Linked DNA regions of Homo sapiens: region 1 is linked to region 2. A link means that fine-mapping ties the variant in region 2 to the expression of a gene that starts in the linked region. Tissue or cell type: whole blood. Region 2 holds a variant in brackets; the other region holds the start of a gene. All regions are shown on one strand. Distances are from middle to middle.

Evidence for each region. PIP is the estimated chance that this variant, and not a neighbour inherited with it, causes the effect.
Region 1: LINC00534 starts here. The variant in region 2 is fine-mapped to the expression of LINC00534 in whole blood (TOPMed, PIP above 0.99). The same link has a PIP of 0.9 or more in blood mononuclear cells.

The regions. Positions count from the first base shown.
Region 1 is chr8:90,216,772-90,224,881 of GRCh38, forward strand. LINC00534 (long intergenic non-protein coding RNA 534) reads left to right here and starts at 4,717. Exons shown (of 4, transcript NR_051989.1): 1 at 4,717-4,975.
Region 2 is chr8:90,163,163-90,171,275 of GRCh38, forward strand. No RefSeq gene overlaps it. Among named protein-coding and RNA genes, the nearest start is that of LINC00534, 54 kb to the right of the region's middle. RefSeq lists cis regulatory regions at 4,785-5,153, 5,000-5,017 and an enhancer at 4,936-5,080. The variant A/G (reference allele first, on the strand shown) is at 4,986.

The sequences.
Region 1 (8,110 bases), 54 kb after region 2:
CCAAAGAGAAGAGTCACTGCCCGGAAGCCTGTTGTAGTTAATGCACACAGCGTTCCCTTCTTTGTCCTCCAAGTCCCCTGAAACCAGCAGAGTGTGAAGTTTAGAGTTGAGGCTTGATTACACCAAACTCAAGTGTGAGCAGAAACAAAGACTGCGGGCAGAGAAGGCAGAAAGGGCAGAGGTGGCAAACACTAACTCTGGGTTGGCTGACAGTTGATTAAGACAGAGTCACAAGGGAGAAAAATTGCTTTTATTTGCTATGAGGATGACCAGTGCCCCACCTGGATGGACCCCAATCAAATATCCTAGAGTTGACTCTTACTTTTTGTCAGCTCCACAATAAACTGTGTTCTCCCTGTAATGACAGGCTAGATGGATTATTTTAAGGGTTTATGTACTCTTATGGAAATGGAAACAAAAGGACAAATGCAGGGTCTTTCTCCCTTGCTTGAACTCTTACTTGGTTACTTTTCTCCTCCCCTACCTCCACATCATTTTTTTTTTTTTTTGGTCTGTTTTGTTTGGAAGCCTTGTCTTACCAATTTCCAACCATTCTCACTTTCTTCAGCAATCTGTCTCTTTGTAGCCTTGCACTCAATGAGTGCTATAATTGGAAGAACTCTGTTAACTTGAAAGGTAAATAATGGTAACATTATTTTAATTTGTGTTTTTCTGATGACTCATGAGTTGAACATGGTTATAGTTTTGATCACTTCTTTCTTTCCTAGAGTATTACCTATTCCTATAATTGTCTTTTTTTGGAGTATTTCTATTTTTTCTTAACAGAGTTTAGTGCTTAGAATCATAGGCTCTCTAGCACCGATTTTCCGAGCATCATGCTGACTCTGTCACTTCTATGGGACACCAATGGGCAAGTTGCAGAATGACTGTGCCTCAGTTCTCATCTTTAAAATGGGTAATAGTAGATATGACTATGTCTCAGAGTAGTTGTGAGGAGTAATGAGATAAAATATATTAAGTGCTCACAACACTACCTGGCACATAGTATATGCTCCATAAATGTTATCTATTATTATTAGCTATTTAAATATTAAGGATATTATTTCCTTGTGGATCACTTTTTAAAAAATATCCTTCTTCATTTAATACTTGCCTCTTCCTTTTATCCAAGGTTTTAATCTTCAAATGTGTTAAACTTTAGGTGGCTGGATTTGTTGATCTTTAACTTTGCATTTTCCTTCAATGCTTTTGTGAGCAGAGAGTCTCCCTCAATGGCAATTTGTGAAAGAATAGATTTTCAGACGCTATTTCTATTTTTCTTTTCCTATTTATGATTTGTCAATTTCCTGCCATGTGTTTCAGTCCTCTTCATTCTTTTTTCCCTCATTTCCTTTATTTTTATTTTTGATTGTGACAGAATATATGTAACATATAATTTACCAGCTTAATCATTTTAAGTCAGGAGTGTAAAGTACATTCACACTGGTGTGCAATCAAAATCCAGAACTCATTTCATCCTGCAAAGCTGAAACTCTACCCCTCTTAAACAACAACCCCTCATTCCAACCTCCTCTCAGCCCCACTGGCAAGTGCCTTTCTACTTTCTGTCTCTACAAATTTAACTACTCTAAATACCTCTTATAAAGCGAATCATACAATATTTGTGTTTTCATGACTGGCTTATTTCACTTAGCACAGTCTCCTCAAGGTTTATACGTATGTAGCATGCATTATAATTTCATTTTTTTAAGGCTGAATAATATTTCATTGTATATGTAGATGTATAGACTACCTTTTGTTTATCCATTTTCTCATCAATTGGGCACTTGGGTTATTTTTACCTTTTGACTAATGTGATTAATGCTTCTATGAGCATATTTGTACAAACATCTCTATTAGACACTACTTTAAATTATTTTAGTTATACACCCAGAAACAGAATTGCTGGATCATATGGTAATTTTATTTTTAATTTTCTGAGAAACTGCCATACTGTTTTCCATAGTGGCTATATCATTTTACTTTCCCATCAACAGTGCACAAAAGTTCCAATTTCTCCACATCCTCACCAACACTGTTATTCAAATGTAATGGCAAAATAGAAGCATTTTTCGCACACAAAAAGAATAATACAATTTATTGTCCACATAACTGAAGTAAAAGAACTATTAAAGTTTGTGCTTTAGCAATAAGACAGTGAACTCAGGATGAAGGTGAGGGTCTAAGAATTTCTGAGTTGAACTACAGTTTTAGAACATGTATTGGTAAATTTACTTTAACATTAATCATAAAAATATAAATACCCCTTTTTAAAAGGGAAAAACTAGAACTATGAGCAATAACAAGATTTTGTGGGAAGTGTTCAATGGATAGTTAAAGCATTCTATGGAAATTCTCAGGATAACAAAAGAGATAATGAGTAGCAACAGTCCTGTTGGAAAAATTTACATTTGGTAAAATTTATAAATGTAGCATCTATCTGTAAGTCTGTTCTTTTTATAGTTGAATATATCCGTTCATATGGACATACCATATTTTGCTTCTCCATTAACAAGTTGATAGACATTTCAGTAGTCTCCAAATTTTGGCTATTATGAATGATGCTGTTACGAACATTCATGCACAAGTCTTTGTCTGGACACAGATTCTCATTTTTCTTGAGTATAGATCTAAGAGTGAAATTACTGGGTTATATAGTAAATAATAATTTTTGAGTAAACGTAGCATTTCACATTCCCACCAGCAATGCATGAGAGTTCCAGTTCTTACATTCTCGTCAGTCCTTGTTATTATTAGTCTTTGTTTAGAGTGGGTTCTAAGTATATCTCTTTGTTGTTTTAATGTTAAATACACCCTTTCGAACTAGTAAAATCTTTGAGAAACTGTGACTCCTCCCTAGCTCTCTGGACTCCCAAAGCTTTAATCCACTGTTTAGTGTTCTTTTAACAATTATGATGTGGCTATAATTTATTCATTGATCAATTCATTCATTGATTCATTAACTCAACAGTGATAACTGAACATCTGCAATAGGTCAAGCGATATTCCAGGAATAAAAAACTGAATTAAATTGATTCCTGCTCTCAAGGACTTGACTAACCTAATTGGAAACATGGACCTAGACAGTAAGAATTAAAATACAATGTGGTAGATGCAAATAAAGTACAAAATGTTATTCAAGTTCTGATCTAGTCAAATCTTAATATGTCAAGGGCTTTCAGTTGCCATTTTCCTTGTCATGAGAACATCTTTCTAACATGCTCAGGGTTGATTTCTAATGGTAAGAGAATGAGGTTGGAATGAGATAGGAGCTGACTTCCAGTCAACACTGTGGGCTCCACATATCACTTTTCTTTAGTCCATTATCAGTGCTATTATCTAGTTCAGAACTTGATATGCTCAAAACACCCTAGTTTCTGTTCTTGCATCTTAAAGTAGAAAGATCAGATGCTATTTCCATTAGTTGTCCATCTAAGGATACCATATAGCTATTCCCTTGATAGATTTAGTTTCACCACCTTACATTGAATTTTTCTTAAGAAGGAAGCAACTAAAATAAACAAGAAGTTCAATCCTGAGATTCTGAGGGCAATGGCATTTGCAAGCAATTTGTGGCAGGTAAGAGAGCAGTCCATAAAGTACTTCCTCCTAGGATGTTCTTGTGATTTCTGCTCTAATATATCTCCCACCCCCAAAATGCATGCAAGTGCCTACACACACACACACACACACACACACTGCCACCACCTTCTCCACTTCCCTAAACCCAATGAATGACTAACTTGCACAACATTCATCCACAGATTTTAAATATGAATACAAAGAAGGGATTCTAGTGATTGATACTTTTCCTGACCTTTAGATAACAGTTAACTAAACCATTTTAAGCTGATGTTGACATAGCCTATTAAATATCTCTACAGCAGAAATTCTATAATCTGCATTGTTCAGAAGTCCTGAAGTCTATGATTTAATGTAAAAATAGACCAGAAATCTGAAGAATTTATACAATTTATATTTATAACACAGTTGACTTAGTTGAATGTGTCAGAACACAATATGTGTACATATAAAATTTTTGGTGAAGTATGCCATAAAATTATAATTTGTTCATTAATTTTACCAGTTCACAAACATTTCTTAGGTATGGGTAATATGTCAGGCTATATGCTAGTTATTGTGGATACATGGATAAGAAAAAGACAATCCTCATCTTAAAGGAACAAACTCATTGGAGATAGACCTGTAAACAAAGAATTACCACACACAGTAATAAACATAGGGGAAAAAGAAAAATTAATCATCAGGATAGGAATGAAGGAGTTTTAGGGAAGACTTCCAAAGAAATAGGTTTTTGAACTGTGTCTTAAATATTTGCTACTCACAAAGTGTGGTTTTCAAACTGGGGGTATTCGCCTTTTCCAGAAGCCTGTTAGAACTTCAGAATCTCAGATCCCATTCAGGACATACCAAATCAGGATCTCTATTTTAATAAGATCTCTGGTCATTTGTATGACATTAAATTTTAAGAAGGTTTGCTTTAAAGGATGGTGAAGAATTCCCAAGTAGGTTTGAAGGAAAGGAAAAATATTCTCCAGAAGTGGGAACGATACTTGTAAAGGGACTATCTTGGACAAGATTCTCCTCAGAAGCACACTCTGAGGCAAAGAGTTGAGTACAGCAGTTTATTTGGGAGGAAACACTAGTAGGGGAGTGGGAAGTGAGATAAGGAAGGGAAGAATGACTGTAAAGAGTGTCTTTTCTGGCAGATTACTTCTGTGAGCAACTGGGTCTCTCAGTTCTTTGGGAGCACCCTGGGAAACAGTGTGGCTATGACTTGGAGCTGCTCACCAGTTCCAGTCATTCTGTGGTTGAGAGCTGCTCCCTATGGATGTTAATTCTTCTCTATTTTAGATTTTCCACAGGTGTGGGCCCCATTAGCTCTGGCCACCTGAGAAAGCCCTCAGGCAAAGAGTCGCAGGTGAAAGCCAGCAGTTAGAGGTTCACAGAAATGGTGAGTGCTGAACGGATATGGGTGGGTATCAATGATGGCTGCTATAGAGATCAAGGCATGAAACGGGACTACAAGGTATACTCAAGGAATTGCTGGTTGTCTAGCATTCTGGGAGTGTAGGGAATAAGTGTGGAAGTATCAGGATCTAAGGGTGTCTAGATACATAACAGCCAAATCATGAAGGGCCGTGTGAGGAAGACATGCTAAGGAAGTTGGAACTTATTTTGCGGGCCACTAAATATTTAAAAAATAGAGTGTCATAGTAGAAATTTCATCTTTGGAAAGATTATTTTGCAGTCTAGAGGGTGGGACTTCAGTGAGACTGAAGACAGAGAGGCCAGTTAAGAACTCTATCATCTTGGATACAGCTTTTGTAGTTACGGTATCACCATTAGCTGACTGGATTAATTAATATCTCTATTGAGCTTCTGCTGTGTTTGCAGCATTTTGCAGGTAGCTGTGTGAGGTATATCAGGTATTTTCTTTAATTAATGAAAATAATCTGTTTAAAGTCTATTCAATATATTGGTGCTATTGCTGTATGTTAGTAAGTGTTGGTGTGTTTAAATTTTACATGATGTGTATATATCACAGGTCTTGAGTACGCTAGCTGATACCTAGTATCATTCTCTAAAAAACGACCAATAGTATTTTTCTTTTTCCTGAGAGCACAGGATGAAATTTAAGCTAATAATTTTCTTTTATACCAAAAAATTACCTTTATACAAATTTTTTAATACCAAAAGTTCCCATTCATTGGGAACTATATGTAGGTCCCCAGTGAATGAATATATTAATTATTCACCTTGCCCATGGACACTAGTCACATTTTATTTGCGACCATTGCCACATCTCATAGAATAGGAATTTCTTGATTATTGCTATATTCACTCATATCAAAGTGTTGCCTTCCATTTCTCTTAGCTAAGATAGGCAGAAAACTTTTTACTAAGCCAGATAAATAATGGCTCATGTACTAATCCTTGTGAAATTAAACAAAAAAATCTGTGAAATTAAAAAAAATTATGAAATTAAAAAAAAATGGAAAGAAATTCCTGCCATGTCACTTACTATCCCTAATCTTAATTTCAGTGTTGTATAGATGTGTGCTTCTAAAATGTCGTGTTTTTCACACTTCGTTTCAATCCTTGAACTCTATTGAAAAGCTTCATTATATATTCTCCATTACTGATCTCGTTATAAAAATTTGATGTTGCTTAAAATAACCATTTGCTTTATTAAGCCAAGCTTTGTTTACTTCTGTATCTGTTGAGATTAACCTCCCATCACCATCCTTATACATGTACCCTTTGATTATTCTCAGTATTGATATCTTGGTCTTCCAAGAGCTGTAAGTTTTTAATTCACAAAAGGAAGGAGGTTCTAGGATTCAACTAATGTGATGACTAGATTTGTATATGGTATTAAAGTATTAAAGGAGAGAATTTCTTCGCCCATAGCTTATCATTTATTTGAATGCAGAGAAAATTTACTGGGGAGATTCAAAATGATAAATTTGTCTATGTGGAATTCAATAAGCAAAATGCTGAAATAGAGTCTAAATCTTCCATCATCACTAAAGCTGTTTGATAAGAAATTTATCTCCTCTTGTCTGCTTTAGCTTGATCTAAGTTAAGTACTAATGAATCATGACCCAGTCTGTGTTCCTTTGTCCTCACATTTTACTTGCTGTGGCAAGGATTCAAAAGTGATTGATTAATGTCAAATAGGTTTTCGCTCTCTATTGGAAATCTTGCTGCAGTAACACATGCTTTTTTTGTTTTAAATTTATATAAGGCAACTTTCTCTATGGTGGGTACCGTAGAAGACTAGAAGTTTCTATTATAACACATTCATCATTTTGAAAAATGAAGGTGGCTGGCTGCAGTGGCTCACGCCTGTAATCCCAGCACTTTGGGAGGCCGAGGCGGGTGGATCACCTGAGGTCAGGAGTTCGAGACCAGCCTGGACAACATGGTGAAACCCTGTCTCTACTAAAAATACAAAATTAGCTGGGTGTGGTGGCGGGTGCCTGTAATCCCAGCTACTTGGGAGGCTGAGGCAGGAGAATAGCTTGCACCCAGGAGGCGAAGGTTGCAGTGAGTCGAGATCATGCCACGGCACTCTAGCCTGGACAACAGAACGAGACTCCGTCTCAAAAAAAAAAAAAAAAAGTGTGAAGCTATCTGAAGATTGACTCAATTGACCTGATGCAATGAGGAAGTCCACTAGAGGATTTAAGCAATAGGCCAAGTTTTCAATCAAATCTTAAAATAATTAAGTGACCTTAAAATTCTTGACTAAATTTCTGAGTGATCACTTGTGTATTCTCATCAAATGAGGTAGTTAAGAGACCTGAGGAAGAGAATACTTTTGGATCTGAGTTTCTGTCTGTTAAGTAAAAATGGATTTGTTGTATAATCTGAGTAAGCTGTTTACCATCTCAAGAGTCTCCATTAAGAAAAAAAATGTTAGATAGTGGACAACAATGCTCTCTTTATGAGGATTACATGGTGTAAAGTGACTGTCATGTGTCAAAGCTTCATAAATTGGGGAAATAGATAAATAACTGTGGATAGTTTTGCCTTTTTGTAAACAGATACTGATAAAAAGACCTAGAATAAAGGCTCTCTCTTTTAATAATTTCTGAATTTCTTGTAACTTTCCACTGCCTTTCACTCAAACTCCCCATTACTCCAGTTATGCAGCATTTATGCTGGGGGCTTTATGGGCTGCCATTGCTGCTGTGCATGCTTTTCCATTTAATTTTAAAGTTCCATTGTTCTAGGGCATTAGGATTGTTATCAGATTTCTTAAGGTCAAGGTCAGTGAGTCAAATATACTGGAGCATAAAACATTTTTTTCATCCTTTTAAAAGTCACATTTATTTTGAAAAGACCAGGAAACCCACCCATCTTTACCTCTCCTTAATGTTGATCCAATCTGAGCTTTAAATTTTTTACTTTTTGCAGCATGATTTGTAACATAGATGGCTAGCCTTAAATTTGGCCAAAAAAAAAAAAAAAAAGGGTTTCTTTTTTGCTTTTGCTGAAGCGAGCCCTTCTGGTCATCTATAGGTCAGCTCTTGTTGGTGAACTGATGACAGTGGAGGCACCTGCACTTTGGAAATAAACA
Region 2 (8,113 bases):
CATAGGAACAGTAGGAGCCATCCTCAATGGGGCAGGCATTATGTCAATCACTTGGGGAGGAGGCCAGACCCTCAGAAAGGAAACCAGAACTCAGGAGACCTGGGTCTTAGGCTGGAAAAGTAACTTCTGCCTCTCTCGAAGATCTGGACTTAGAAGTGTCCAGATGATTTTTTGGGTGAGGAAAAGCTAGTTCAGGAGCCATACAGGGATACGGACAAGGAGGTAACTCTGTGGCGACTATCTGAAGATATATGAAGTATGGCTGGTAGGTCAGATGATCAAATTACAGATCATTTCGCTTTTGTTCCTCCAGTCTTTTCAGTCTAGTTTGATTTTCATCTCATTTCAGATTTGCCATGGGCCATGAAAGAAACTGTGATTTTCCCTATTTGAGCTTGATGTTTATTGGGTTCTAGCCCACCTAAACCCCCTACTCAGACACTCTTCTCCCTCCCAGTGGGGTCAGTGAAGCTAGGACAAGGGCCATTAGCAATAACTTCCAAAGGGAAGGTAAAGTTGGGGACACAAGGTTCCCACAACCTTCCCTTCCTTGGCAATCTTGTGGTTCCCACTGTTAATTTTATCACAAATGTTTGCAGGTGTTCCAACTGGCACTTAATCATATACTATACTTCAATGTTTAGTATGTTTAATATAATCTTATTTTTTCCGTTAGGTTATAAACTCCCTTAAGGCAGTGATTTTGTCATGTATTATAAAAATCACCCATAGCATCTTGCACAATGATCTCTAAGTGAATATTCAGTAAATATAGTAACTGTTTATCTAAAATGTTATATTAACCTGGACCTTGGAAATACCCTAAGATCTTATCAAAACAGCATTGTATTTCCCTATTCTGTTAGCTCTTTTGGAGCTATAGATTTCTGTATGTGATTAAAATTGGAAATCACTTTGTTTTTAACAAAACCAGAGCATTCCTTGTAGTATAATTAAATACCTGTGTTCTCAATTCCCCAAAATCATACAGCAGGGGGCCATCTCTAGTACTCACCCCTGAAAGGTAGCTGACACAAAACTTAACTAAGGCATCTTGCTACACAGGAAAGAGCATTTTAATTTGCTTCTTGAGAAACTAAATTTCTGGGAATTTGTGATAATAGCTGGATGTGGGAAACTAGAAAGGCCTATAAACATGAGGCCCTTAAAACAAGGCATCCCAAAAATCCAGGAGGTGGCATGTACACAGTTCTCAGTTAACCATCCTAACAGCTGAGTAGGGGCACAGAAAATTCAAAATGTGATCCCAAACCTACTTCCTGATGAATAATAATGCTACTCTAAGAGCAGTTCTTTCCCCAGTAGGTTGTAAAGTAGTATTAAAATGTACTTTGATTTCCTAAACCTGATGATGAGAATTGTGGCTCCTTTTAACACTCGAGAGGATAACATTTCTGTTGGATAAATAAGAACCTCTTCTGTGTACACAAAGAATCTTCTGTCAATAGAGTACAGAGCATATTTCTTTTCTCATGAGGTAGAAAGCAGCAGCTTTGACTCAGCGTGGAACCAGGCAGTGCAGACCCAGAGCAGCTTCCAGCTCTCAAGCGGGTGCAGGGTGCAGAGTGCAGAGTGAGGGTGATGAGAGATGAGGCCAGCACCCAGCCAGTTAAGTCTCTTGTTTGAATTAGTTCCAATTCCAAAGAACATTACAGACAAAACAAACTTTTCAGCTCTTAGGAGGTGACTGCACTAACTTGACAAAAATGCAACTCATTAATTGAATTCTGATTACATAGGTATTGTGGCAATTTGCTTTGTATGCATTATCTCATTTCATCTTCTCAACCATCTCATGTTTAGTAAGATGAGGTGAGTGAGATCCTTCATTATGGAGGTATAGAATCTGGGGCTTAAACTCAGTTTTGTCTGACTCCAAGCCCCTGTTCTCCAGTCTTGTTATTTGTTCTGCGTTTGAGGAATGTACTCAATGGCAGGGATAATCTTAGCACCCAAGACAGCCTCAGACTATCTGTTGAGGATGGTGTTGTGATACTGTCTGGGCTGAAAGTTCAGCCAGACAAAAGCAGTGATGAACTTGTCACAAGTGGGGAAATTCACCCACCAAATGATTCTGAAACATACTGAGTATTGTTGAAGTCTACATCTGAACGGCCAGGACTATTTATTGACTTAGTGTGTGTTAAATGGGCACCACTTACCCTGTGCCTCACTGCCATTGCTTGGTATTTCTGCCTTCCAGAGGCAGCCCTTTGGATTCATCATATAGATAAGTTCTGTCATATCGATGTCTTTCTCTTCTCAGTTGTCAGAAGATTATAAGGAATAGAGGAGTTTTCCTGACATTATGATAACTGGATCCTGACTTGTTAATCACACCTCCTTTGTGTGGGGCCTCAAAGGAAATACCACAAATAAGGAATCTAGCAACATATGAGGCAAAGTTCACCTTAGTCATAGTTGGGCATAAATCTTATAACCTATACTGGAGCTCTGGTAAAAGACTGACTTGAAGCCTGAGGCTTATCACTGAGGCTTAAGCAAGGCCTTATCATCTATTCCTCATGTCCTGCCTCTCAAAATGGAAAGTTTGGGACCAATAGGCCCTGGTAAACTTGCCTGGCCTGTTGGTCCCCCAGGGATGACCGGGCTTCACTTTGAGCATACCTACACATGCACAGGATCATGGAAACTAGCAATACCCCACCCATACCCTCTCAGCACTTAACCCTCTTGGTGTATACCAAAGGATCCTATGGCACACACCCAGGATTCTCTGCGTGAGGGTTTATGCTCAGCGGGGCCTGCTGCAAATGTTGGGTAGTTAACACCCCTGAAACAGCCCTAGCTGTTGGGAGTTGAAGGATAAATACCCCAGCTCCTTCATTGCCCAGGTGGAATGAGTCTGGAGCATATTCTGCACTTTCTCCTAGAGTTCCATCAGAGGTGAAACTCAGTTGCCTAGAGTGGCTGACCTGCTTGATAATTGTAACAGGGAGAATGATATTCCCCAAGAGGGTCACATCCTAATTCTTGGCACCTGTGAAGTTGTGGGAGCACATGTGGGAAAAGAGGCTTTGCAGATGTAATTAAAGTTATATATTTTAAGATAGGGAGAGTAGCCTAGATTATCCAGGTGGGCCCAGTCTAATTATATGGGCCCTAAAAACAGAACTTTCTCTATTTGGAGAAATGCAGCAGATGAGATGCAGCAGCAGGAGAAGTCCAGAGATGTTTGAAGCAGGAGAAGGAGTTGATGCAACTTTGCTAGAGCTGAGATATAAGGACCGGTGTTCGAGGATCAGAGAAAGGTTTTAGGAGCTACAAGTGATCTGCAGCTGATAGCCAGAAAGGAAATGGGACCTCAGTTTTATAGCCACAAGAAACTGGATTCTGCCAACCATCTGAATGAGCTTCTGCTCCAGGGAGGAGATTCTCTCCCAGGACCTCTAGACAGGAGTCCAGACCTGAAAACCCCTTGGTTTTGGTGTTGTGGAATGCTTGGCAGAGAGCCAGCTCAGCCATGCTGTGCCCAGACCTCTGATCTACAAAAACTATGGGATAAAAAGATGTGTGTTGTTTAAAGCCCCTAAGTTTGTGGTAACTTGCTATGACTTCAACAGAACATGAATACCATAAGGCATACACTCTTGGTCTGCTCCCTTCCCATCCCCCTACTGGTGTTTTCTGGGCTCCCCTCCCCACAAAAACCACTTGCGCTCACATCCCAGATGGAACTGCATCAAGGCCATCAAGAATGTGCACCACTCAGTTCTCTAGCTGTAGGCCTTTGGTATCTGCCACAGCGTTAGAGCTGAGGACATGCTTCTTTTGGGAGCTCACGACCAATGACCAAGCTCAGTGGAGCACACAGTCTGACCATTCTGCCCAGCTCAGGACTCCTCTACAGGTAACTTTGTGCTGATGTTCCATTGTGCTGTCCCAGGCTGTTGAGAGCTGCACCGCAGTTTCCTACTACTCACCTTTTCCCTTCTCTCCTTTAGAACATGAGGCCCATATTGCTATCTGAAGGCTTTGTCTACTCCTGATCCCCTTTATCTTTCATAGATGTTACCCCCTGTAAATCTCCTGTGCTTCTAATTCCATCATGACATCTGCTTCCCTAAGGACCAAACTGACAAACCCACCAAATAACACATGCTAAGCCTTGTCCAAGAAGGTGGACCAACCTCATCACAGTGAAATCAATCAGATATATAAGAGGGAGTGGAGAGTGGCCACATGCCTGTGAAAGTATAGTAATATCACCCATTAAAAACTATGGTCCAGGCTGGGCATGGTGGCTCATGCTTGTAATCCTGGCAATTTGGGAAGCCAAGGCAGGTGGATAGCTTGAGCCCAGGAGTTTGAGGCCAGCCTGGGCAACATGGCGAAACCCTGTCTCTACAATTAAAAAAAAAATTAGCCAGGATTGCAAGACCAGCCTGGGCAATATGGTGAAACACATCTCTATAAAAACAAACAAAAAAAAAAAATCCAGGCGTGGTGGCACATGCCTGTAGGCCCAGCTAGTCAGGAGGCTACGGTGGGAGGATCTCTTGAGCTGAGGAGTTCAAGGCTGCAATGAGCCAAGATTGCATCATTGGACTCCAGCCCAGCCTACAGAGCAAGACCCTGTCTGAAAAAAAGAACTGTGGTTCAATAAATGATCTGAAAAAAAGGTGATAATAATTAAATTCTAATGACATCAGAGATTATGGCAATTTGTATGCATTATCTCATTTTATCTTCTCAAGCATCTCATGTTTAGTAAGATGAAGTCAGCAGAAACTTACATTAAGGATCTGGAATCTAACGGTTCTGATGAATAATTCTACAGGAAAGCAAGAAGAGATAAGCTTGTGGTTGAGGGTACCCAGCTGGAGATGGAGAAACAATACTAAAATCCTCTGCCTTACTTGTCTGTTTCTTCAGGGGCATGAGTTCCTACATAGTTTAGCAGTGGGAGCCTGTGAGGCTGCCAAAGTCACAAAAGTTCAGGA[A/G]AAAGTGAAGAAGGCTGTGGCAGGATGATAAGATATACTACAGTGTCAACACAGAGATGATGCATGGCTGGCCAAGAAATTCTTCCTAGAAAAATTAGCTGTGTAGTCCTACTTCTTTAGGCAGAAGACTCATCAGAAGACCATATTCAAAGGGCAAGTCTGAACCAAAAGCTGATGCTGCAAAAGGCAAAATCTCAAACCTAGCAAACATAACTCCAGATATGAGAATTTGAGTTTCAAAGGCACTCCACTATTTGAAAGCTAGTTACATTATTGGCTTTAATGCTGGTAATAAAATTTATATCATAGCAAAACAAGCAGCTGCCTTAATTAAAAATAGAGAAACTTCAATGTAAGTTGTATCTGAAGAGTGATTTAAAGAAATTACTTATAGATGTATCTATGTGTTGTTGTATCCACCGATGGGGGCATTTATTTTACTAAACCAAGCAAATTAAAATGTTCTTGATAGCTTTCATCCCAAGAGTTTCCTTTTATATAAGGAAACTCAAATACAGACCACTGTTAGTATCACATTCAAGGTTCTTGTGTCCAGTGTGTTTATACTCAAATCTTTCTCTAAAGAGTGTAAAAACTGCAATAGCTGCTGAGGGCATTACTGCTTATGAAAATCTCTTGCACAGCAGAGGTCGGGCTTGGAGATGTCAAACCCTGAGTTATGTTCCATGGTTATTTAACCTTTAGGATCACTTATCATTGATTACTTGCTTCATGTAGATGTGTACTTAGTCTCTGTGATCTCCCCACAAAGTCAAAATTTGTACTGTTGACCTTTTTTTGTAACCCCCAACTCCTAATCCAGTTTATTGATGTGCATAGAATAAGACACAGGGTCTATTGATGTATGGGGCTTCATAGCATAGAAGTGAGTATAAAAGTGTTCTGATGGGAATCAATCACTTGTCCTAGACAGAACACTTGACCATTTTCAGTCATGTTGCAACATACCTCTTAGAATTCACACTAGGGCACAAATCAGAGTTTTTAGCACAAAGGGACCTACATCCTTCAACATCAGTTCTGATGTAGCAATTGCATTTGGAGGTATCCCTTAAGGATACAGTGTCTGGCCAAGACAGCATAGCTCAGTGGATGGCCCCATGGATTTTGTTTATGTTTGGTTATTGCTACAATACTTCTTAGCTGTGTGACTCTGGACCAATTTCTAAATTTTCCAAAGCCTCTATTTTCTTATTAGTGAAGTGGGGAAATAGCAGTACTTACCTCATAGGGCTATTGGGAGGATAAGACAGTAAATATAAAATACTCAGTGATGCCTGACACATCAGAGTTCAAAACCAGATTGAAAAATATAGTATTTAATAATGTCTTAGAAATGGAAATGGAATGGAAATGTCTCTCTAGCCTCTTGCCTAGCAGAGAGGAGGCACTCAATAAGTCCTATGTATTTTAATTAGGATAGGCTAAAGTGTTATGACAGATTGACTCAAGATATAATTGACTCAAACTCAGTAGAAGTTTATTTTTTCTTTACAAAACAGCCCAAAATGGATGTCACACATCACTAAAGGGGACTCTGCTCCACACAACCATTCAGGGAACCAAAGTAAAAGTGGTAGTGCCATCTTTAACTTGTAATGTTCTGGATGTCATCATCCCTGTAAGCTGGAGTGATGAAGGCAACTTCCTGAGACGGTTTTTGTGGGCCATATCTGAAAGAGATACACCACTTCCCCTCACATTCCATCAGAGAGAACTTAGTTTCATGGCCATACTCAATTGCAATGGAGATAGGGAAATATAATTAGGTTGGGGAGGATGAATTTTGGTAGGCAGTTAACAACCAACAGTTTCTACTACTGCTATCTTTTCTGGAACAATAAGCTCAACATTGATTCATTTATAATATTAGATACAACTTTTCTTTAATTTAAAAACCTTAAAAACCTAGCAAGTTAGAGTCCAAATGTTCCCGTAAATCTATAGGTAAGAGTATACTGGTCATGTAGTGTTTTTAGTCTAACATTTTATTTTATGCATAGCAGAACTCCTAACAGGAATCAGCCACAGAAGGCATGCAAATTATATGCTACAACTTTAACAATTTATTCAGACATTTATTAAAACAATCGATATTTATTGAATATTTAGATTTCTGTAGGAACTGTGCATTTCTGTGGGTGATAGAAAAAAAAAAACAGATCTAGTCCCCAAAGAGCATGCATTTTGATAGTGGCATGATGAGATGTCCACAAGTTATCATAAAATTGGAAAATGAAATTATTATGGCAAAAGAGCTAACGAAGTGCTAGAAACTGATTAAAAACCCAATTTTGATTAGGCCAGAGCTACATTTTAATTTTCTTGGCCTTTTGAAGTTTTCAAAATGGAGCCTCTATTACATCCAGACATAAGTTTCTCTCCTGGTCTTCAGCTGATGAGGGCATCATGAAGTCCTGCAACTCCTCTCCCTCAACCGTCACACACATACAATTTTTAATGTTTTACTTCCAAGAGGGAAAACTTTTCAATGACATCTTTCATCAAAATTAATGTTAAATATTTTGGGGGGTTTTGGTGGATGTCATTTCTAAGCAAATTATTAGAACAGCAAAAACAGTTTATATCATAAGTTTTAAAGTCCTTTATACATTTTTTTGCATTAGAGATATTATACAATTCTATCTATTTACAAAACACTTTACTTTTCAAAAATATCCTGTCAAGAGGTTTTGAAAATATCTATTTCACCAATATCTATTTAAAGATAAGTCTGGAAATAAGATAATTTCAAAATTAATTACACGGATATCTCATTGAATCCTTTTTTTAAAAAACTAAAGACAAACTAATTTTCTTTTTACAGAAGTAAAATATAAGCACACTTTGATTAAAATTCTGCTGTTAGTGATTATTAAAAGAAGATATTACTAGAACCAAAATTAAGCTTTCTGAAAAATGTCACTGCCTATTTCCAAAAAGGTTTATTTTATTTCTAATAAAAAGAAGTTTGAACATGCTGTCCCCATTCTTTTTTATAAGGCATTTCTACCCTGGAATTCTTTAGGCACAGAATGTGTGTTTTCTGCTTTGAACAAGTGGGGGATGACTTTCTAGATTTTGTGGGTGCATCAGCTGCTCTTTGA